Regions from separate parts of the Homo sapiens genome. Here regions 2 and 3 are each linked to region 1. Evidence: fine-mapped QTL for protein levels in blood plasma. A gene starts in region 1. Each other region holds a variant in brackets. All regions are shown on one strand. Distances are between the middles of the regions.

Region 1 (8,179 bases):
CACATTTAAATTTGGCCTACTGCAGAGGTTAAGAACTAGCAAACTCTGAGTGTGCACTATTATTGACCCTGCACTATGATTTCTGTGAGCAGTGCATGAGCAGGTCATTCTCATCTTCTTAAGCTTAGAATGAAACTTCAAATGTCTTTTTCTGACAAGGCCCCTGCCTCTGAGATACCCAGTTTATTTCACCCTAACTTCACTGTAACTGAATAACATTATGAGGACCCATCCCCATCATTCCCCACCTTTTTTTTTTTTTTCTCCCTCAACAGTCCCTTTGGCCCAGATCCATGTAGAATCAGAGAATCTTCAAGCTGGGAGGGATGACTATGGGGCTGCGATGTGCTTATGAATCACCTGGGAGCTTGTTCTGATGGACATTCTGGTTTGGGAGGTCTGTGATGGGGCCTCAGATGCTGCACTTCTTGCAAGCTTCCAGGTGATATGGATGCTACTGGACAGAGGGCCACACTTTGGGTTTTGAGGATCTGGTCTTAACGTGGTCATTTTACAGATGGGAAAGCGGAGTCCCAGAAAGCTTGTCATTTCCCTGTGGTTAGAAATGAAATTCTGCTCTTCCCCACTCTAGTCTATCACCTGCTTTTTTTTTTTAAACCTTTAAGTTCAGGGGTACGTGTGTAGGATGTGCAGCTTTGTTATACAGGTAGACATGTGTCATGGGGTTTGTCGTACAGATTATTTCATCACCCAGGTATTAAGCCTGGTATCCATGAGTTATTTTTCCTGATCCTCTCCCTCCTCCCACCTTCTACCCTCTGGTAGACCCTCATGTGCATTGTCCCCTCTATGTGTCCATGCGTCACCTGCTTTTGAAAGGGCTTCCCTCTTTTTCAGCTGTCGCTTCCTGCTCAGGCCCAGAGTGTGAGCATAAACGTAGCACCCCATCTTAATCCCATTTTACTGTCAGGATGAAAGACTTCTTGCCCATCAGGGCCCCTTGCTCCACAATCTGCATTTTTACCAAATCCAGAGGGGTTTTTAAAGGTTTTTTGTTGTTGTTGTTTTTGTTGTTCTAACTTATGGATGTCTCTTCTTCTCTGCTTGACATGTTAAAAATCCTCTCTCTCTCTCTTTCTTTCTCTCTCTCTCTCTCTCTCAAAAAAGTGGGCTGGGCATCTTTTGGACACAACCATTTCAGTTCCAGGCTGGAGCACTGATGCTGGGCTGAATCCACTTGGCGTTCCCTGCCCAGGAGTGGTCTGAGAGAGGCTGTGTTTCTCTGCTGCCACCTGCCACCTCCCAAGAGAGGCCAAGTGTTAGGATCTGACTACACCTCAGTTTCCTGACTCTCAGATATTCTAAAGCCAATCCCAGAATGGCACTTGAAGTGACAGGGAAATTCCCAGTGGCCTAAGGACAGCCAGGATTGGCCTAGGGCCAGTAGCAAGTGGTTTGAGAGTCCAAGGAGGTCTTCACACTCTGTCCCCGCCTGCTGGTGGGAGGGCAAAATGCCAGTCTGGAGACAAGGCCATAATGGCGACGGGGGTAAAAATCTCCCTGGGGCCAAGGGAAGGTGGAACGTGACGGGAAGTCGGGAAAACTGCCTTGTATAGGCATGTTCTTTTCTTCCATTTTTTTCGTCCAAGTTTTTACTCCAAGCGACAGTGCCACCCGAAGGCGACCGGCCTGTTTGTGGTTGCGCCTGGGGCAGGCGGTGACACCGGCATACCCCTTCCCCCATCTTGCCTGCAAGTTGCATGACCTGCATCGGAATCCACAGGGGGGCGGGGGAGACTCCTTTCAGATACTGGATGCAGTTGAATTGAATTCAATGTATTTTGCTTCCTCGCCTGCCCTCCTCCAAGCTCGGGAAGGAGAACCCTGCTTTCTTCTGCGTGTGAATGCTGTAGTGTGTCTGCCTGCTCGGACTCCCCTAACCCTTTCTTCTCCTTTCCCACAGCGAATGCTCGTTTTTTTTTTTTTCAGCAAACAGCTCACACTTGGCATCTTTATGTTTTATTAAGAAAAAAATCCCTACCAGCGCAAAAGCGGGGCCCCCCCCACACACACTTCTTTCCCGGATGAGATCTGAGCTCTCGTCGAAAGCTGCACCTGCTTTGCGTCCCTACCAGGAAGGGGTGCTTGTGTGGGAGGGAAGGAGGAGGTTCTGCGCCCCCGAATCCGGAGAAAGCAGCCCGCCCGCCCCCTCACCCGGCAGCCAGCTCAGCTCACCCGAGAGCTGAGCCCGAGAAGCCGGCCTCTGACGGTGCTGGCGTGGCGCTTGCCAAAATATGCCCCTTGCATCTCAATTTCCCCCGGCCATTTCTCTTGCACGCACAGCTCGCCCGGGGCCACCTCGGCTCTCCAGCGCAGCCCTTTCGACCCCTGTTTCTTCCTTCCCCGATCCATGCCTGCTCAAGGCCGAATGCAAAACCCACCTCCAAGAAAGCGCAGCGGGCACGGGGGGCACCTAGCGTGCCATGTCCCGCAGTCCCCTCCCAGCCAAGACCAGAGCCCCAGACTCTAGATTACGGAAATGAGTGTCATTCAGACCAAGGACTGCGCGTCTGCGGTCCCGGTCCCCGGCTCTGGGTGCTTCTCTGGGGTGTCTGTGCGCTCCGGCACCCCCCGTCGCCGTCCGTGAGCCTGCGCCCCCCACCCACCCAGGCTTGGGAGCGCCCCCCACCCAAGGCTTGGGAGCACTCCCCAATCACCTCCGCCACGTTCATTTCACTTCCTACCGCGGTCCGGATTGCAGCAAAACCGGGTAGCGCGAGGGCCAAAAAGTGGAAAGGAGAGCGCCTTTCCGTGTCGTGCAGCCAGCTCGCCAACTCTCCCTCCCCAGCCCCGACCCTCGCAATCTCAAATGCAACTTTTTCCCTTCGGTCTCGGTTTCCCCCGGGCTGCGGCTAGCGGGCGCCGCGCTGCGAGGCGTGGAGCGGGCGGGCTGCCGCGAGGCTGCGGGTGGCGGTGCCGGCTACAGCCGCGAGCCGGCGAGTGGGTGGGTGGGTGGGTGGGGAGGAGGGAGAGGACAGGCGGGGAGAGAGACGGGTGTGGGGAGGGGAGGGAGGGGGAGATTCCGCTCTCCTGCCGCTCCCAGCCCGGGCGGGGGGCGGGGGGAGGAGGCCGCGACGAGGGAGGGGAGGAGGGAGGGAGGAAGGGAGGGAGGGAGCCGAGGAAGACGCTCCGATAACCCGTGCGTTTCGTAAGGCTCGGAGCACTTGTACATTTCTGCAGCCGCGCGGCGAGCCATTCGCGGCGGCTGCTGCAGCTCCTACTGCATCTTCCTTCTCTTCCTTTCCTCGGGCTCCGGGTGTGTGTATGTGTGAGAGTGAGTGTGTGTGTTTTGCAGGTGCGTGGTGTGTCCGTTTTAATTCTGCCCAGTAGGTGGGACTTGGTGACTTTAGCACCATTTTTTCCTTTTCCTTTTTTTTTTTTGCCTCCCCACCGTCTGTTGCAACCCTGCAAAGTCTCGGAGTCGGAGAGCGCGCCTCGCTTCCAGAGCCCCCGGACCCGGCGAGTCAGCGATCGCCGAGCCGGCCACCATGCCCGGCAGACCGCGCCACTAGGCGCTCCTCGCGGCTCCCACCCGGCGGCGGCGGCGGCGGCGGCGGCGTCCGCGATGGTTTCAGACGCTGAAGGATTTTGCATCTGATCGCTCGGCGTTTCAAAGGCAGAGGCCCCCCCTCCCCCTTCCCCCCTCCCTCGCCGTCTTTGTTTCCTTCCCCCCCTGCTCTCCCCACTCCCCCCACCCCACCCCCCTCTCCTCTCCTCCTCCTCTTTTTTAGAAGCAGCGATCGGAGATGGATGTCTCTCTTTGCCCAGCCAAGTGTAGTTTCTGGCGGATTTTCTTGCTGGGAAGCGTCTGGCTGGACTATGTGGGCTCCGTGCTGGCTTGCCCTGCAAATTGTGTCTGCAGCAAGACTGAGATCAATTGCCGGCGGCCGGACGATGGGAACCTCTTCCCCCTCCTGGAAGGGCAGGATTCAGGGAACAGCAATGGGAACGCCAGTATCAACATCACGGACATCTCAAGGAATATCACTTCCATGTAAGTCAGGCGGCCGCTCCCCAGCCTGCCTCCCCCGCGCTCTGCGTCTCCCTCCTGCCCACCCGCGGCCGGGAGCCGGCCCTCCGCCCGCCCCAGCTCGCCGCTGCCCGCCGCCCGCTGGGCGCGCGTCAGGCTCGCTCTGGCTCGGGAGATGCTCTCCGGCTGCGCATTCCAGGTGACTCCGGCCCTGGCGAGGCGCGATCCGGCTATGCGTGTGTGTGCCTCTCCCCGGAGAGGACCCCGGCCGCCGAGGGCACGCGGGGCCCAGCTACCGCCCGCCTCCCAACCAGTTGCTGGCTCGTTTCGATGGTGCAAATTGTTTTTTTTTGCTCCCCACTAAATAGCAACAGTTTGGCCACGCTCAAGTGGAATAAAGTAGACGAGGTTCGATTCTTTGGCAGAGGCGGCAGCGGCGGTGGCAGCGGCGGCAGCGCTTAGCCGGCAGGGAAGGTGACAGATAGGGACTGCTCGCGATCCAGCCGAGGTGTTTAACTATTTCCATTTGGAAACAGCAAAACATGCTGACAAGTAAACAAGTTGCGAGCTGGCTGCTCGCGGGGAGACTTTGGACGTGTGGAGGCCGTCATGGACGCCTACCTCTTCCCTTCCCCTCCTGCAGCCCGCCCTCTCCAGCCCCATTTTGGGCATTTCCGAGACACCCCTTTGCCACCCTCATCTGCATCTGGGCGCCTACAGATCCCTTCCCAGTTTGGGCTTTGATAACTGCTCGGAACTATTCCGAGTCAGGATGGCGCAGGGAGAGGAGAGGGCGTGTGTTTTGAGGAGAGGGGTTTCTTGTGTGATCGTGCGGATCGGTTCATTTGGAACATTCAACTCTGGCTGGCTTTTGCTTGGTTCTGCCCCCTCCGAGGGAGACCAGTGGTGGCCTGCTCTTTTCTCCTTGCTATTTTTCTTTGGTGGGGATGGCAGCAGACGCAAAGGAGAGGACAGATCGAGGGCTGGGGACTGGAGAGTCTGCTCCTCTTTTCTTTCGTTGACCTCGGCCAGGTGACCCCTTCCTAACCTACCACCCTGGAGAAGGGTGTGGACCATACTGGAATTGCTCAGAGGATAATTCTCACCTCTTTTCCCCCAAGGCTTCCAGCCCTTGGGGACCCTCAGCAATGGGTAGGCAGCTGAGAAGGGTTTGTGCTGAGGTCCTGGCCAAGGTCTGGAGGAAGGCATTTTGGGTGGCTCTTTACCCCTTCGACGGACTTAAGGGGGCCGGACCTGCCTTTGGTGCTGCTCTGGGAGCACCTCCCCTTGCTTCAGCCCAGGGCCATGGGGCTGCAAAGCCTGGAGGAATTGCAGTCCTGCTCTTTGGAAAGCCCACCAGCCCTCTCGGCTTAATGGAGCTTCTGCTTGCGCTCTCGCAGCTGACAGTTTGAGGGAAATGGATAGCCCAGGAGATGTCTCTGACTCCTGGCCCAGGAGACAAGCTTGACCCATATCTCAGCTCTGCTGTTCACCCCCTTACCCTCTTCAACCCGGCCAGAGATGACAAGATAAACAGCCAAGGGGCGGGGGTCAGCAGGGAGGGCAGGAGGAACAGGACAGACCCAACTGTGCCTCTCCCCCACTGCAGGCCACAGGCTTCCAGCATTCCCAAGGATGCAGGGAGAAGGGTTCAGAGTGAGACTGTTAGGGAAACTCAGACTTGGAAGTGCATTGCTGGGGCTGTATGTGTATGTGTGTAGGGGGTGGATGTGGGTAGTAGGGTGCTGGTGAAGGTGGGAGCTGAGCAGCCAGTCTTGGTGCTCAGAAGCCTGACCTAGAGATTGCCAGGGGTGGGCCAAGGGTTGGAAGAAGGGGCCCCTGGTACCCAGCCTGGGTCTCTGGGAATGGGTGAGCTGCATCCAGTGTGCTGCTCCAAGGATGTGTCTGTCTGTAGAAAGCCAGTGGGAGGCAGGGATGGTCACAATCACGTAGGCTCTTTATAGCCACACAGAGGTGTTGCTCCTCTGAAAATGATGCTCAGGGAAGCAGTTTCATAGGGCAGAGTTGGGTTAGCCTTTCTAGGCTGCCAGAAAGGTCTGTGATGGGAGGGGACTGGGGTGGCCTCTTGCCCTCTTTGGTACTGGAGGGCCTCAGGAGGGCGTCTGGGAGGATAGTGAGCAGGGAGTGGATCTGGAGCCCCTCTGTGTGTGTCCCCATTCTTGTTTCAGGACTTGGATTCTGAGAGGCCATCAGGACTCCTTTCTCTAAATCCACCCAACACCAAAGAACAAGGGAAATGGATTCCCACAGGAGCTGTGCCAGTGGCAGGTGGGGGAGGGTCAGAGGTCATGGGTCAAATGACCTCTCCTTGCCCCATCTTTTCCCCAGTGCCCTGTTATATCTATGGCTGGTATTGACTGAGCTCGAGAAGAGCCCAGATTTCCACTCCAGAGCCAGGGGGCTGGAGAGAGGGCGGAGAGTCACGCTTACCCCGGAAAGTCAGCATCCCCATCCCTGTTTGACTTCTGAGGAAATGGAGGCTTGGGGTGGTAAGGTCACTTGCCCCAGACACACAATCCCAACAGGAACCCCCACTGTGTGGGGCTGCATATGGAGCAGGCTGGAAGAGGGATGTGCGGGCAGAGAGAAGCACCCGCAGCTGGGGTCAGTTCTTGTTTTAGTATGACTTGGGAAGAGGGCTTCAGTTGAAGCCCGTGCCTTGCTGGAGAGTTGTTCTTCAGATTTCTGATGTTATCAAGGAAATGGGACCAAGAGGTCCCCTAGCTCCCTACTGGCCTGAAGCTCTTGATGCTGGTGGCTGCCCCAGGGTATAGCTTGGGCACACTCTGGGTAGAAGATGCTGAGGCCTCCACAGTTTCACCCTCTTGTTCTTCGGGCTGTAATGTTTCGAGATCCTTCCTTCAAGTGCTGAACTGATTGTAACTGAGTTTCCAGAGGGACAAGAGGTTTCCCTGTGGTTCTGCTTCTCAGGGATGGTGTGTGGAGTGATTCCTGTGTGGCCATCCAAGGAAGCTGGCTGGGAACTGCCTCTGATGGGGGAGGCCATCTCCCCATTCAGCTGCCCTGTTTGTATCTGGAGGAAATCAGTTGCAAGGCATCAGAGCATAAGTGTGGGTCTCACCTCCACCCCTCACCAGAGCCACGCTCCTCCAAAGGGCCCTCCCTTTTGGCCCCTTTCTGCCCAGGAGGCCAATCCCTTTGCCTTTGCAGCTGTTGATACACAGGAACCTCATGGAGCCTGGAAGGGTCCATGCGCAGCCACACCCAACCAGGCTGTGACGTCACAAAGGCAGGAGGGTGGTGGCCATGGTGGACTGTCTGGGCCGCTTTGCTAGGCCAGGCCTACCTGGGGCTGGGTTGGAGTGGTATGGTCTTTAGCTGTTAGAAAGAAGATGAAGTGGGAGAGGATGGCATGGCTGGACCAGGTATGCTTGGGGCTGGCTACCTCGGCTTGCAAAGACCACGGGCTCTTAGCTGGGACTCTGAGTCGCCAGCTGGGTCTCACTCTGAGCCGCCACAGGGTCCCTGGCATTTGGCAGCTCTCTGGTCCCTTCATTTCCATGGCCCTCCCTGAAGGCCCTCTTCTGGCTGGCTGAAGGATCATTCGGGGCTTTGGCCGTCATGTTGGCTCCTGAGTCTCATTCTTTCTAAGGATCAAGGGGAGACCCAGCCTTGACAATGACCCAGCAGGGTATGAGCCAGGCCCCAAAGGCATCATGGGGCTCACTCTCGGTAGGCACAGTTTGGTGCTCAGAACCCCAGGATTAGGACTAGGTCTGAGAGAGGTGGGCAGAAATGTGAGGGGCTGTTGACATGAGATTTGGAAGCAGGAGTAGTTACAGCCCCAGAGAAAGGTACTTCCAGGATCAAACCTGGAGACCTTGGTCTCCTGAGGCCCTGGGGTTTTCCACCAAGGAAAGGCTATTGGTGGCTCCAGAGCCAAGACCCCCTGCCCCAGGAAGCCCAGCAGGTCAAGCTTCTGTCATACACCCTGGGGCCAAGGGCATCTGCTCTGCACCTCCATGGGACCTGAGGCCATGACAGCTTTGGGCAAAAACCAGCCCAACCTGGCCACTGCTTTGAAAGTCCTCATCTACTGGCCCCAGGAAGGCTAAGCCTGCAACCTGGAAGGTTCCTTAGGGTCCTAGAAGGCTCCTACTACCCTCCTGCCTGGCTGAACAGGAGGTGCTGCTGTGAGAAAGGGAG
Region 2 (8,179 bases), 280 kb after region 1:
TGTAACTTATGAAGCACTTACTCAGAACCAGTCAGATTTTACCCACAAGGAAGCTGAAGCTCAGAAAGATTGAATAACTAGCTCAGGTTTCCACAGCTTGAAACTGGCAGAACCAGGACTGACAGGGGGACTGCCTGACACCTCAAAATGCTTTTGGCCACTCTGCAGCCCCCTAAAGTAGCACATCTTCTGCTCCTGGAAGGCTATGATTGTGAAACACCACCTAGGTGCTCCCCCCTCCAACCCCACTCCACTCCTAAGACAGAGAAGTCTTTCAGGGGTCTTCAGGGATGAGCACCATCCCTGACTTCCTTCTGGAACTTTTGGGACAGGGTGATTTTAAAGACTGGAAAAGAACATCTGCAACGTTCTTTCCTCTCATTGTAGCATTTAGTGACTTGGGGGTGTATGAAAGCATGGTTGGGCTTAGATCTGAGATTAATCACATGTCTTACAGTTGGTGAGATTCCCAAGCAATGATGGCCTTTTTGATATTGGGGAGGACTCATCATACAGTTGGATGAGACCAACCTGATCCTTAGGATAGCAGTTAGGCTGCCCAGGTCTGGGCAAGGGTGAGAAGCTTCAGATAGGAAGGTGGTAGAAGAAAGGATGAGACCAACCTGATCCTTAGGATATCAGGTTAGGCTGCCCAGGTCTGGGCAAGGGTGAGCAGCTTCAGACAGGAAGGTAGTAGAAGAAAGGGCCTTGTCTGACTACCCACTGTCACTTAACCTTTCTTCAACGCACCTCAAAGACCTCCTGATATGTCCAAGCTCAGCCATGCAATGCTCACCCTAAAAAGACCAAACACAAATCAGGCTCAATTTGGAAGTCAAGAATCTGACCTCTAGCCACCTCTGTCTCTTCTTTTGTGCGGGAATCCCTTTCTGCAGCCAAGCTCCCAGCAGCCACATCCTCACCTCCACCTCCCCAGCCACAGGTGTGACCGCAGCACAGCACTGGGCTGTGACACATCCCCTGGCTCGTCCCAGTTCCCTCAGGTCAAGACCAGGCATGAGCAAAGGATCAAGCATCTCAGATACAATGGTGAGGCAGCAAGGGAGGGTTGGATGCCGCGGGAAAGCTCAGGAGCGGGCAGATCAATGCAGGACGACTTCATTGTTGTGTAGCTTTCTGCACGGAGCCAGACATGGATTAGGCAAAGAGCCGGAGCCTTTGTTCCTTCAGGGTTTACTGACTCCTGTGCTCTGGCTAGACTCGCACATTGCTGCCAGCATGACTCTGAAAGCAAGAGCAAAATGAAGGTGGCAGGGAGGGAGAGACAGGGAGGGGGAGAGGGGCGATGCTGGCTGCTTGGAGTCTTCTCTGTGAAGGGCCCAGGGAAAACTCTTAAGCATGACAGCAGAGACGGGAGGAAGGTGGAGAACAATGGGGAGTCTGGCTTCCATCTAGACTGTCCAGCACGGGCCTGGAGCTCTCCTCCTCCTCTCTCCCAGCTCTCCCCCACCCACCACATTGCCAATCTTTAATGCTGGCTGATGTGGGCGAAACTGCTTGCAGCCTCCAGATTCCTTGGATAGCTCTGGTTCTGCATTTTGCCTTTAGAAATCCTACTGTTACCACCCCCTATACTTCCCACCTCCCAAGAAAACCTCAGCCTAGATCTGACAGTATATTTCCAGAGCTAAATAAGACTCCTTCTTCAACCCTACTTGAACCCAAAAGTGAGTTGAAGGAGATATGCTGGCAAGAGATAAGTCCCTTGTCTGCTTTTTTGGGTGGTTCTGAAATTCCATCAGGATTCTGAGGCCCTCTTGGGTAGGACTTTTGTTCCAGTTTCTCCTACTCAGTGGATAAAACTTGCATAGAGTGACCCCAGTTTCCCTTGAAATTAAATCTTGATAAGGGAAGAGATTTCTGCACGGGTGATAAGGTCTAACACCCCTCTGTGTTTTTGCCCCTTTTCATTTTGGCACATTTTCCTTCTATCACAAAATATCTGGGTGTTTGTGCCTGAGAGAGCTAGATCTTCTCTCCTCATTATGCTTGACTTCTGGGTGGGTGTGAATGCATTGCTCAAAGGTTCTGTATGCTCCTGGGCCAGGATGGCGAGGAATGACAAAAACGAGGGGGACAAGGAAGATATCAGAGGCAAACCTTTGACTGGGGCATGCTCTGCTTTGAGAGAAGGGAACAAGAAAGACAGGAGCACTTCTGAGGAGCACAGATCCCACAGGGACGTAGAAGGTACTGATGGCTCAGATTTGGTATCAAAGGCCTCCAGCCCAGGTCTGTGTGGGTTGTATCTGGGAAGGAACTTGGAACTCTGAGGTAGAGGAAAACGGCAGGGTTGCAAATTACCCAGAGAACTGAGCTGTAGAGAAATCTTAGCTGAGGGCTCTGGTGGGACTTTCAAACCAAGATACATGAGCCTTCCATATGGGACCAGATGGGCACCTGGCTTTCTCAGGATCATGGTATTTTCTCATGACCCTCTACCAAAAGGATCCTCTCAAAGCTTCTCTTAAATAGATGATTTAAGGCTTTGATTTACCTATGGGTGGGGACTGGGGCCTTTGGCGTAAGTCAAGAAGAATGGAGCTTGGCTTTTCTGAGAGCCAAAACCCTCGAGCAGTTCTCACTTCACACCCTAAGAGTAATGTCAAGTAATGTCTGAGTTTGGAGGGGTGGTCAAAATCCCCTGCTCAGCTATGGAGAGGGTTTGCAGAGCAAGGAGTGAGGCTGCCCAAAGGCATCGTTCCAGTATGGCAGTCCCTGACTTTTGTCTTCTTCCAAGTTTGAGGGACAGAACATCATGTCACCTCAGAAAACACTACCAAACCTGGCTTTGGTAAGTAATGCTGGAAGCCTTTGTGGATTGCAGTGATGACCAGCTTGTCTTCATGGCTGTCTTTGCCTCAGTTTCTGCCACCTGTGTGCTGTTATCATGGCAGCTCAATGAAGCCTAGCTCTGCCTTTGGAGACCTCACTGGAGCAAGTGGCCTATTTCCCTGAAAAAGACACATTCTCCCCTCCCTTGCCCTCAAGTTCATTCTGCAGTGAGAAGGACAAGGACTTAGCCTTGGCAAAGGGGAAAGTGACTTCACTGCTGTCTAATATGGCCTGGTGATACCTCTGTTACAGAGTTCTGATAGACCACTTACTTTCTCACTCCAAAGCTCACACTACCTTCAGTCTGTTTGGGACCTCGTAATGTCGTTTAAAAATCACATTGTGGTATTCTTTGCTCTGCAAGGCTTGCAATAGCCTTTGGTCAAAAGTCATGAAATCCTGACCTTCAAAAACGCACTTCTCTTAAAAAGAGAGGGTGTGGAGCTGTGGGGAGCACATGTGCTCTTCTAGGGATGGGGCAGGTCTACAGAGCCTGTGACATGGTCCTTGGCAGCTGCACAGGCCTAGGGAAATATTTACCTCTCACAGCTAGGTTCTTGAGCGTGTCGGGAGCTCATGACATGGAGGGTCCTCTAGTTTTAAGCTGAAAGGGTTTAGCCTCTGTGACGCAGGGGACCCCTGCA[C/G]CTACAAAGGCTAATTTCCAGTCTTTCTCAGCACTGGGTCAGACAAGCAGTCTCCAAGCTCTGCCCTCTTGCTGCCAAAGTCAAGGCAAGGGTGACAGAAGGAACATTCCAGAGTACTGGCTAGATACTAACTAAATCTAGCCTATTAATTATATTCTGTCAGAATCTCTGGATGCTCTTGCTATTAATTCTGAAAGAAAATTCACATGGCAGAGAACATGAGAGTAAATCTCAAACAACTTCTGTCAAGACTGCTAGTTCCTGACAGCTCACCCTGGCCAGGAGGGCACAGCCAGGATCTGTGATGCTCTCTGGTTGCCCCCAACCGGCGACCATAGCTCCTCACTGAGGCCTTTTGCTTCAGAGGGAGCCAGATATAGAGCTGGCCAGGGAGAACTTGAGTCTGTTTCCTCCCACTGTCAGTGGGCAGCAGGGGAGGCACCACCAATATAGAACATATTCTGAGAATGTCCTTCTTGGGAGAATTTAAATTCTAAGTTCATGTTTAAATGACTCACAGAATCGTTCAATCTTTATGGCTGTCAATTTGGCATTTCTTGCTACCATAACAGGAGATTGCTACACAGTACCTCTGATACCAAATGGCCAACCTAGTCGTTAAGAAGACCAGAATAACCCCACTGTGCATTTTCAGGATGGTGTCTTTGGCCATCTTAATAATTTTATTGGGTCAATCACTTGACCAACTGTTATCCTGCATAAATTGGTCTGTTTTCTGGGCAGAGCTTCAGGGCCTGCAATATGGTTCTCCCTTAATTTGAAATCCCCAACTTGCAGAAAAATCTTTTTCTCTTCCTCCAGTTACTAGACAAATGATGTTGTAAGGATCAAGTGCTCCCCTTTTTATTGATTGCAGCAATGTTTCTCCTTAGTCTCATGATATGCCAAGGATCCATCAGAGAACTTTGGAGAATGTTGCACAATATGGCCAGCTCTTAGAGTTTCACAGTTTGCATTAGGATATCAAAGGCTCCAAGAAGTCCTGCTGTAAACAAACCTTATTCTACCTCTTTCCAATTCTAATTAAACACAAAACATTCTTCATTTAATATCTATTAATAGACTCAGCACACACATGTTAGAAAACACTGGGTTATAGTGTGATCAGAAGCTTTTAAAGAAGAATCAAGCAGGATGTGTTCGTCAACCACCCACTTCTTATATCAAGAAACCACCACACCCAGCACGCTACCCAGCTCTAGGCTCAGCCCTCACTTCTGCCTTCTACGTAGAGTCAGAAAAAATTCTGGTTGCTGATGGATAGACACTCTTGTGAAGATCAGGAAACCTTCGCTGTGATATCTCAGAAGAAAATGGTAAGTCATTTCACATAAGAGCTTGAGACCTCAGCATTAAACCTGGCCATCCGCCCAGGCTGGTGGAGGTGACATCATCTAGTGGTAGCATACAGCAATGAAGACCCGGATCCCAGTCTCAACTCTACCACTAGCAAAATGACATGGGGTAAGTTACCTTTCCTTGTTCCATATTTGTCTCTGAGTAGCTAGTAGAGTTTGCTGATCCTCATGTAAAAGACCCTGCCTGGACAGATGCCCCAAATACCATGTCCCCATGAGTCACTGTTGTCTCTTAGTGGAGGACATCTCTTGGTTCCTGGTCCTTCTCTCTCTCTGAATATGTTGTGTATAAGGCAAACTGAGTGAGAGAGATGGCTGCCCCTTTGGGTGAGGATCAGTGGATTTCTCTGGATGAGGGTGGAAGCAGATGCTTGGGGGTTAATAGACCCTCTCTGTCACAGCTGGACAAGGCCAAGCGGGAGTTCTCGGCAAGATTTTCTGAAATTGATCTCAAGAAGGCAGCTCTGCCTAACAAATAGTCTGAAATGTCAAAGTATAAATGTTAAAGCTTGAGGGGTCATTCTCCAGGGAGTTGCCTGGGCTGGCTAGGGAGGGAGAGGAGGAGGGAGAGAGGGACACAGCAGAATCCTTCACATAAAGATTCTGACTTGGTTTTGTGATATTTAAGAAAAAAGAAAACTCTGAATTATTTATAGCACAGAAGATGTAAGCAGGCTGTAGAGAAGTAGCCTGGCTTCACATGATAGTTTATGGCCATTATTTAGCTGCCCCAGCCTTGAACTGGTAAAACTTTTCTCATTAGTCACATGCTGTTGAGCTCTACTTGAGCTATCTATCTATCTATTCTTCTTATTATTGCTATTATCATTATTTTAATCAAGAAAATTCATGTCCTTCAATATATGAGTTGGGGGACGCAATTTCTGGAAATGATATTTGCACAAAGCAGGAGTTACCTCTTTCCCTTAAAGGGACTCTGGCACACGCGTCAGTAACTCTTTCCACCCCTGTGGGTGTTTCCAGCCTGTGCCTCTTCAAGCAGGGATTCGGAAGGCCCCTGCTCTGATATGAGTGGGAAGCATCTCCGTTTGGGCCTGGGCACCAATTGGCCATGTCAATCTGGGAAGGTGAATTTCATCTCTCATTCGTTCCCTCTGAAAGATGAAGGCAATTGTCCTATGCCTCTTCTGAGTATGCTGGGCATAGGAAGGATAATTCCATTGTGTTCAAAATACCTTGGTACCTGGCAGGGGGTGGGGGGATAGCATCTATGTTATGTGAGGAGATAAAAGAAGTAAAGAAATGTTAAAAGGTTAAATAAAAACTGATTGAAGGATTGGTGGTAAAGCTGGGGGGAATGAGTTCTTTCATCTGTTTATTTTGGTCAGTGATAAAATGAATGCTTCATGTTGATAATCATATCCTGATTCTATAGCATGGGTAATTGAAATTCACCAATAATCCCCAAATTGCAGTTAGAATCACAAGCTTCACATGCTCTCTCTTCCATCTCTACACATGGTACAAACACGCTCTTAGTCACTCTCCTAATTGTTTTTGCATACCCTTGACAATACTCTGGGAGATGCAAACACATGGAGTCAACTTTTGGTCAGTTTAGGGGTGGTGAGGTGAGGTTAGTCAAACTGCAAATTAGATCATCAGTAGAGCTCCAAACAAGCAATATTGTATTTAGGAGGTGTTGCTTTTGTTGAAGATATCAATACTTTCGTTTCTTTCCTAGACCTGTTTTTTTTTCTACCTTGAAGAACCTGGAGAACATTTTGCAGTTAAAATGTCACAGTGACACTCCTGTTATAAAACTCTGAACGTGTACATATTTTTACCCTCACTAACTTACTCTACCTCCCAGAAGTCTTTGAAGTGTTTTGCCTCCACTCCCTACTTGCTGTGATGTAGAAGTTAGGCTAGCACCATTGCTCTAGGGCAGTGGTTCTCAAAGTTTTTGGTCTTGGGACTTCTTTTCACTTAAAAGTCATAGAAACCCCAAATGATGTTTGTTTCTGTGGGTTATATCCATCATATTCACTGCATTTGAAATTAAAACTGAGTATAATTTAAAAGCTCAAGTATACACACACATTCCATGTAGCTGTCAGGATGATGACATCATCACATGTCTGGAAACCACTGGACAACTTCATGAATAATACCTGCGAGACACGAGAGTAAAAAAGGCATACACTATCTTACTATTGCTGGGAAAATAGTTTTGACACATGAATCTCCTGAAAGGGTCTTGAGCCCACCAGGGACCTTTGGACCATTTTGAGACCTGCTGTTCTAGGAAAACAGGCACAAGCAGATTCTGAAATCAAACCTGAGTCCCTTTGGAGCCAGGGAAATCTACCAGTCATGCACTTTGATCCAAGTGTAGAAGTCCATCAGAATTCCATTTCTTTACTCAGACATCACTGACTGCCCCATGGGTGTTGACTTAAAGCAAACTGGCTACAACCATGCATGTTCAGTTGCTAGGAATGTGGAAAATATACAAGAAAGACTTCACCTATTATAAGAAAACAGAGTGGGGGCTGTTTGCTTGCTCTGGAGAAGAACATGGGCTTGATGTCACAGTAAACATTATTGGTTGATTGAAGAGACTCAGCACGAACAGGATTTACAAAATCCCATTGGTGAGAGCAGGAGGCATGAATGGCATGGGATGAGAGAATTTATAAGCAGCACCTTGCTGGTTGGGCATCCCTTCATTGCACTGTAGCTCTCATTGTGCATCACATTTGGACTTGTTTAAGGAACATGTGAGGCTCGCAGTGCTCTAGCCAGGACCTATGGGAGTGCCTATTTAAGTTTAGACACTCTGGCACCTCCTTCCTCTTTCTCCTAAGCTGGGCAGCTTCGGTATAGGAAGATTGGACTATGAAATGCTTTAATGTCTAGGGAGCTTCCTTAGGTTAACTCTGTATAGCACCCAGCACACCACCCAGCAGAGGGACCTGTCTCATCATGAGGTCCTAAGTGGGTGACAGTGTTCATGCCTCTTCCTGTTCATCATTTATACCCCGGGGAGCAAGAACTGCCCTTCTGTGGGATTATTTCACAAACCCACCGGAATAGGGTCTTTCAAGGAATACCTCTGAGATCATGAGCAAATGTTGCTTAATTGACTCATTCTTCAAACATATTTGGGGCATCCACTCTGTGCCACACACTCTGCTACTAAGTGAGTCAGTTGTATTTCCTGTCATCAAGAGCTTTATTGTCTCCTGCACTGGTTTTCAATTGGGGGTGATCTTGTCCCCTAAGGGACATGTGTGGAGACATTTTTGGTTGTGACAACTGAGGGTGGGTGCTTCT
Region 3 (8,179 bases), 330 kb after region 1:
ATCCTCTTGAAGTGGGACATTCAATAGGGTGTCGTGGTTTTGAGGGGCAAAGAAATGAGTTAGTACCAGGCAATGGAATGGAGGACTCTCTGGAGCTCTGCTTATGAGTCAGGTTTCTATAAAGATGGCCCTAAAGGAAATGAAAGCATCTGTGGGATGTTCTAAGCCTTCTAAACCTGGATTCACAATGAAATGGATTCCTTTCCTGGAGAACTTTGTCTTTAGCATAAGACAGATTTGGGTTCATATCTTGGATTTGTCACATCTTAGTTGCAAATTGGAGCAAGTTATTAAATCTTAATTTTCTCTCCTAGAAAACACGACTATTAATAACTGCTTCACGGGGTTGTTGCTATGAGTATTAAATGACTATATGTATAATGCTTAGACAAGTTTTGCAAGTAGTTCAGTGATCAGCCAATGGTAGCTGCTATTGAAGTTATTACTATTACTATTTTGTGAGAATTGTGAACCATGGTAGCTTCTAATCTAGGCAACACTCTTTCTCAATATTCGGGATAGCCCTCACTTTGTCCTTTTGTTCCCCTGGGGCCCAAAGGGCATGCCCTACTTTTCACCACATCCTATCCTTACATTCAGCAGTATCTCCAGCCCCAAGAGCCACCAGCAGGGTTAAAGAAAGCTCCTAGGTGCCTCTGCACTACTGTCATACATGATAAAAGGGAAGAGAAAGAAGATAGTAGGAGGGAAATAAAGAGTGAGAGCCTAGAGTAAAGATAAGGAGTGGAAGAAGCAGAAAGTAAGAAGAAAAGAAAAAGGAGTACAGAAGAAACAGAAAGAAGTGTATAAGGTGAGGGGCAGTGCCAGTGCCTTGCCTTCTCCATGGCAGACAGCATGGGGAATGCATGCCTGTGAGTACAGTTCTACAAGGACTTGCTGACACTCTGAAGACCTCTGTGTCTCTATGGGATCCCTTCCTGAAGACAGCATGGGGGAGTCTCTCTAAATCAAGGCTCGACAGTCTTCCTGGGGCAATTTTGCAGCAAAATCTGAACTTTAGCCTCCACTACTGACCAGATTCCCAGTAGGTTCCATTAATCTGTCTTCCTAGGCTCTATCAGTCGAGGGTGACCTTCTAAAGAATTCTCTGAGACCAGAAGCTCTTAGCAACAGGCCGCACCAACCCTTCCTGGGAGGCATCCTGTCGGCTGTTCTCACAAACACAGCCTCCATAACCCGCAGGCCAACCCTGCCTGCTCTCACATCTCCATATTGGTGGTGTTGAGAGGCAGGCTGGAGTGCACTCTCCAGGCAGACAGAAGGGAGGGCTTCTCTGCTGACCCCTCTTCCTTGTGAGCTGATGCAGCCTTCCTCCTTCTGAGGAGTGAGGTAGGCAGAGCCCACCGGAGATAGTAAAAGGGATGTGCTCCTACTTAATGGTGCTTTTCAGAGGAAATCAGAGAAGCAGTAAAGCAGGCAGAGGCCTTGCTGTACACCAGGGCTCCTTGGTCCACAACTTCATAAATAAGGGCCCTGGGTGTGGTTACGGCTCACTGGGCTTTCTAGAGAAAAGAGTGAATGCTAAAAGTGACTGATATGATCAGGCAAGGTGTTAGAATAACAAATCCGGGCTTGATTTGGGATGGAATGGGTTCTGGGGGTACCCCAGACCCATGCTTCAAGGTCAGAGGCTCTCTCCACTGTGCACTGCTATGGCCATAAGTTACCCAGTGCTAAGCGGTGTGGTGGAGTGGTTAGGAGTGTCCCAGGGCCACTGAGCGTGGACTGCCAGCATCAGCCCTGGGAGCTAGTGGGAGATGCAAATGAGCAAGCTCACCTAGCCAATCAGAATCCTAGGGGGCAGGGCCAGGGAATCTTGGAACAAGCACTCCCAATGTTCCTTTTAGAAGCTCACTTTTTACAGTCACATGTCTGGTTTCAGATCCTACTTCCTGATTTCCCATATGGCCATTCTGGACCTCTGGGACTTTGGCTGAGCAATCTCATCATTTTGTGCCTCAATTTCTTTATTTCAAAATTGGGGTGGGAAAATTGAGTGAATTACAATATTTAAAACAATCAGAGCATATAGTAAGGGCTATGGCAGAGTTATTTGTTGTTTTGCTAATTATTCTATAATAGACATCTAGCACCTGTGAAAATCCTAGGAAGCAGTGAAATATTAAAAAGAGTAGGTTTATTCCCTCTTCCATTTGAGTATGTCTGCTCTCATCTTAGCCAGAATCTGGTTGTGGAGTTTCACCCTTACCCACACGTACATAATCTAATTTGGGGCAGATAAAAATAAGCCATAGGCAGGATGGAAAGGGAAATTTTATTTATTTCTGTGGGGCATTCCAGAGGGCAGGGACCCAGGAAGGCCTTTCTCCTTGATCTCCTGATTTCTCTCTGCCCCCTCTCTTCTCCCCATGCTCTTGCAGGGCCCATGGGCCAGATGCAATGATCCTTGTGGATGGACAGCCACGCCAGGCCAAGGGTGAGCTGGGGCTCTCCCAAATGCTCCACATTGCCAGTCAGATCGCCTCGGGTATGGTGTACCTGGCCTCCCAGCACTTTGTGCACCGAGACCTGGCCACCAGGAACTGCCTGGTTGGAGCGAATCTGCTAGTGAAGATTGGGGACTTCGGCATGTCCAGAGATGTCTACAGCACGGATTATTACAGGGTAAAGTGACTTTCCCAGCTGCAGGACTCAGCCACAGAGCTAGCGCCTTGCTTACATGTCTTTTTCATTGTCCATTAACCCTGTCACTCTGGCACACACATATACACACCCATGCCCAGACATGCACTCAACAGTTATCTTTTGGCCTCTCTTGCATCTTGACATACCTGTTTATTATGTTCTCAATTGCCCACTCCTTCTTTCTTCTTGGACATTTAACTGAACTGTAATCTGTACATTGCAATAACATATGCATTGTGTTCTTACGTGCTTCAATACTCATTCTTCATGTAAACATACTCATACATGTATATGTATGTGCCCAAACACACACACAGACACACCCAACTTGATACTACATTTAATGTCTCCCTACCCAGTCCCAGATCTAGCCTCACCCATGACACATTTTATTCTCTGAAATTATCTTGTGATTATGTAAGAATTATCTTGTTTCCAAAAGTAGATCTTGATGAGAAGAGGAAACCTAAGTAAAGTAACAAAGATGGCTAATATATTGCTGAGCATTATCCAAATGGGCTGGAACAGATGAGGAAAGGAAGCATGTTATCTGTTGCCAACTTTGGAGAGAGGACAGGTTAGATCTTAGAAAAGCTTTCTGATTGTGAGAAGATCCATCCTGCTCAGTTTTACCTTCATATAGTCATCTGCTTTACATTAACAAGAGTCTTATTTTGCTCCTAGAATCTTTTTTTTTCCCTAAGTCTTTGGGAATCTTTTTTTCCATGGATTATTGACTGATTCTGATAGTGTTATTATTTCCAGGGAAAGGATGAATGGCCATGAGTGTCACTTATCTCAGCAAGGGGAAGTATGAGTGCAACCTGAGACACAGAGATAACTTCTGCAAACTGAGTGAGGGCAGATTGCT[A/G]AAAAATACAGAAGATCCAAGGCTGGGAGTGGTGGCTCATGCCTGTAATCCCAGCACTTTGGGAGGCTGAGGTGGATGGATCACGAGGTCAGGAGTTCAAGATCAGCCTAGCCAACATGCTGAAACCCTGTCTGTACTAAAAAATACAAAAATTAGCTGGGTGTGGTGGCATGTGCCTGTAGTCCCAGCTACTCGGGAGGTTGAAGCAGGAGAATTTCTTGAACCTGGGAGGTGGAGATTGCAGTGAGCCAAGATCACACCACTGCACTCCAGCCTGGGCGACAGAGCGAGACTCTGTCAAAAAAAACCAAAAAAACAAAAAAACAAAAAATCTATTTTTGGGACATCAAAGGAAAGAGGAGTTTGGATAGACATTATAAGGAGAGTGTGGGACAATGTTTTGGAGGTCAAGGGATGTCATATTCCTTTTCAGCTGTTATAACAAATACCGCAGATGGGATAGGTTACAAAAAACTGAAGTTTATTTCTCATGGTTCTGGAGGATGGGAATTCCAAGATCAAGGTGCAAACAAATTAATTGTCTGGTAAAGGTCTGCTTCCTCATTTATAGATGGCCATCTGCTTGCTGTGTCTTCTCCATATGGCAGAAGGGTTAACAGATCTCTCTGGCATCTCTTCCATATGAATGCATTGCCCTCATAACCTAGTAACTTCCCAAAGGCCTCACGTCCTAACACCATTACCTTGGGGCTGTTTCAACATATGAATTTGGGGGGTACACAAACATTCAGTGTATTGCCAGGATCATGGCAGCCAATTGTCTCATCTTTGGAGAAATGAGTGATCATACCGTGAGTCAAATAGATATGATTGTCCTGTTGACCTGAGCATAGTGGACCAGAGGCTGGGAATTTGAGGTGTGTGCAGGTCAGTTCTATCTTGATGTTCCTGATGGCCTAAATGAGATCACTCAGACGTTAAAACAGATCAGTCAAGATACTTCATTTTAGCAATAGGTTGGAGAAAAATGGAATGTTTGAGAAATGACCTTGGTTGTTAGAAAATGACTTGTTTGTTGTGCAACCAAAGAATGGCAGATGATGTACCGTTGTGAGAGAATATAAGACAAAGCATACAGTGTCCACAGCAAGCTGGGTAGCCTCACTAGCCACCTGTCCTATCCAGTATTCCCAGGTATGGAAAAGGAGACATGATGTGGCAGTAGTCATAGACCGATGGCCAGGGCAGACCTGCCAGAAAATATCAAAGAGGAGTCTTTCTTTAGTGTCTAGACCATATTTTTTATTCATTTCCAAGAGAGGCATTGGTGTGGTTACTAAGAGGGGGATGGGTCATAGATTTCTTAGAGTGGGGCTGGAGCTGGCATCATTTAATTGCCTTTCCACTTTGTTTAATGGGGTTTGCTGGTCTGTCTGACTGTGCTCAGATCTATGTAGGTGTTGATGAAAACAAGGGATGGCTCATTGTTTTTCTCTGTGAAAGGCAGATGTTTGATTATGCCAAGCTGATAACTACTGACTTCACTGGAGTCTCAGGAAACTATGTCTGACCAGAATGTGCTAACTGGCCCTTCAAACTTGCTTCTAGATGTGCTGTTAATATTTATTGAAACTAGTTTAAAAGAGGAAAAACAAAAAATAAAAAGATCACATCCCCAATTGATATTTCTTTGTCCTTGCCTTAATAACTGTGAACTGTTGCTCTTTATGCCTAAAAGGGCTACAAGGAATACATCTATCTAATTTCTGTAGGTGCCAGGGTAGATTAGAATTTAAGGAAGGGAGAGTGAGGTGGGAAAATGTACACACTACAGGTAACCTCAATTCCTTCTTCATGAGTTCTAAGGGCGATGTTAGCCAAGGCCAGCTAGCTCGAAATGTATGTTTTTGGTCCCAAGGAAGTTTGAACAAAAAAGGATAACTCTTACAGTAAATACACAGCACACCATTGGAAATCTGTGTATTCTACTGATGAGACATTTAAAGACCAGCTTGTGGCATATCTTCATGTTCACTTACTCACAGTGTCCTAATGTATACACCACTCCTCATTCCCTACTTTTCTGTAAAATGAAAGGCAGAAGTAGATTTGCCTGAAGTCACATCAAAATGAACCCTGAAGTCTTATTATCCATATTGGAAGACATTGGAATGACAATGGAATTCTTGGATTTAGGCCTAATCTTACCTGTGTTCACATCCTAATGTGCAACCACCATTAGCAACCATGTAACCTGAATGCATTTTCCTCTAACCTCTGTTCAATTTTTCTATTGTTAAAGTGAGAACAAAAATATTCACTCAACAGAGTTGTGTTGATGTTAAGCAAGTTAATTTGTATAAAGAGCTTGTAGTACAATACTTACTGGATAAACTCCTGTTTATATTATCTTACTAGTCCCCCTCACATCCAAGCCAAGACAACTCTGTGGATAATTTTATTTCCATATGCAATTCCTGGGACAGAGAGAGGGACTCCGTGACCACTAGAAGATAAACTGGATCATGCAGCTGCTCCAAAGGAGTAGAATCTTTACATTGACCACCTCAGGAAAATGTCTTTCTTAAGGTTTCAACATGTATGGAAATACTGCTCATGAATCCTAGAGCTAAGTCCACATTTGGGTGATTTGTGTAAAACTTTTTTGTTCAGTATACATCGGCTAAGGCCTTGGAGGAATGCTCTGATTTGTCAGATCGCGAGAATACTGTGAAGGATTCTCTCTATGAGCTGATACCCCCGGACAGGTTTGTACCTCTCTGCTATCACTGATTACTGAACTCATTTGGGCCTAAGAGTTTGTTGGCTTCTTATGCCTAACACCACTAAGTGCAGATAATCCAGGCCTGTGTGTGTGTGTGTGTGTGTGTGTGTGCATACACGTGTGCTTGCCTGCCCAGTGCAGATTCCAGAATGTGCATATAAGGGCATGGGGAGAGATGGAGATAAACTCCTCCTTATAGTCTTTCTTTTTCATTTTTAATTTGTTAAAACGAAGAGGCACCATCTGGCTCATACATAAGTGGTATACAGACGATTTACAAAGGTGAACTGCCTAATTTCCTGTTACACATTTAGAGAGAGAAAACAAATGTTCCCACACCAGAACACCAGAGCGATTTGTTCTCTCTTCTTAAGACATTCACAATGACAAACACCTTTTCCTTCTGTGAATCACTGACTCAATGCTTCCAAGATTACCTTTACACTGGCTTTGACAAGGGTAGGCTTTGGGTACCATTATATCTTTCTAAGAACATCAGAGAACACTAAGAGATTGATAGTCAAATCTAGTATTAAAGTTTTGAATGTCCTGAAGGGGAGAAGGTTGAGATTTCAGAATACAGATGTTTTCAGATGTTTTGATTTGGGGAGAGGAGTCAATACACTGAGATCAGGGAGGAATGGAATGAGGGGGGAATGGGATCCTACTAATGTAGAGCTCCAGGAGTGTTCCTTTCTGTTCATCCTGCTGTCCTGTGTGCCTGTGTGCTGTCCTGTGTGACAGTACCTGGCACTTGTTAGGCACCTAATAAAAGTATGAATGAGTGAAGTCAGAAAGGGAATTTAGAATTAGGAAATAGGTCATTCCAGACCAAGAGAAACCTAGACAGATAACCAGATGCTCACTTAGGGGAGGTGAGCCTTTGGAGATGATGTGGAATGCAGCTGCAGGCAGCAGGAGCAAGTCTTATCTAATCAAGCAGTGCATTATCCTGGGAGAATGTTCAGAAGAGGCAAACGAGTGATAGTCTGAGTCAAGGATGACCCACTTCAGGTTCTGGTAGGAGACAGAACAGAGTGTCTAGGACATGATGGGGTAAGTATGCTAAAATCCTGTGTGTTTATGACACACAGGTGTGGGTCATAAACAGGTCTGGCAGCAGGTAGTAAGGCACTGGATTCTAAGCTGGAGATTCTGGGTCAGGGTTCCCAGAAACTCCTAGAAAGACAGTAACAGTAATCCTTAGGAAGTGGGAATCATTTAGAACAAGCCAACCTTACTGGAAGAATATTTGATTTTATGGATGTCTTGGTGTCCCCATAGCAGATGAAAAGTTGTAAGCTCTTGGACCCACACTGCCTTGGTTTGATCTCTGCTCCTATAATTCCTGACTGTATGACCTTCGGCAAGTTACTTGCCCTTTCTGTGTCTTCAACTGTAAAATGGAGCCAACATCCCCTATCACACGCATTTTCTGTAAGGACTAAGAGTTAAGAAATATAAAGCTCTTAGGATGATAAATAATAAATATTAATTATTGTCTTAGTCTGTTCTGTGTTGCTACAACAGAATACCACAGAATGGGTAATTTATTAAAGAAAGAGATTTATTTCTTATGGTTCTGGAGGCTAGGCAGTTCAAGATCGAGGGGCCTCATCTGGTGAGGGCCTTCTTGCTGTGTCATAACATGGCAGAAGACATCACATGGCAAAAGACCAAGAATGGGCCAAACTTGCTTTTATAGTAAACCCGCTCTTGTGATAACAAACCCACTCTCATGATAACAACATTAATCCATTCATGAGAGCAGAGCTCTCATGATTAATCACCTGTTAGAGGTCTCACCTCTCAACACTGTTGCATTGGGGTTAAGTTTTCAACAGAGGATCTTTGGAGGACACTTTCAAACCCTAGCAATTATTGGAGCTAAAATA

Alleles and levels. Alleles are on the strand shown, and positions count from the first base shown. The strength of an association depends on the size of the effect and on how common the allele is.
For the plasma level of the protein whose gene starts at base 3,182 in region 1, allele G in region 2 goes with a higher level than allele C (moderate association).
For the plasma level of the protein whose gene starts at base 3,182 in region 1, allele G in region 3 goes with a lower level than allele A (moderate association).

What was found. A credible set is the group of variants that fine-mapping cannot tell apart. PIP is the chance, under the fine-mapping model, that this variant and not a neighbour inherited with it causes the effect. The UK Biobank Pharma Proteomics Project read protein levels with antibody pairs (Olink). The fine-mapping took linkage between variants from a reference panel, not from the people measured, so its PIPs are less certain.
Region 2: its variant is the best candidate, but not a certain one, in a credible set for the plasma level of the NTRK3 protein (UK Biobank, PIP 0.73).
Region 3: its variant is the best candidate, but not a certain one, in a credible set for the plasma level of the NTRK3 protein (UK Biobank, PIP 0.88).

Annotation. Positions count from the first base shown.
Region 1 is chr15:88,251,742-88,259,920 of GRCh38, reverse strand. It overlaps NTRK3 (neurotrophic receptor tyrosine kinase 3), which reads left to right and starts at 3,182. Exons shown (of 20, transcript NM_001012338.3): 1 at 3,182-3,277; 2 at 3,435-3,637; 3 at 3,753-4,015. The coding sequence starts at 3,768. It overlaps NTRK3-AS1 (NTRK3 antisense RNA 1), which reads right to left and starts at 7,191. Exons shown (of 4, transcript NR_038229.1): 1 at 6,443-7,191. RefSeq lists enhancers at 1,329-1,623, 3,964-4,500, 4,501-5,038.
Region 2 is chr15:87,966,946-87,975,124 of GRCh38, reverse strand. All of the region lies in intron 14 of NTRK3 (neurotrophic receptor tyrosine kinase 3), which reads left to right. Among named protein-coding and RNA genes, the nearest start is that of MIR11181, 25 kb to the right of the region's middle. The variant C/G (reference allele first, on the strand shown) is at 3,501.
Region 3 is chr15:87,923,658-87,931,836 of GRCh38, reverse strand. NTRK3 (neurotrophic receptor tyrosine kinase 3) reads left to right here. Exons shown (of 20, transcript NM_001012338.3): 17 at 2,403-2,646. Among named protein-coding and RNA genes, the nearest start is that of MIR11181, 19 kb to the left of the region's middle. The variant A/G (reference allele first, on the strand shown) is at 3,539.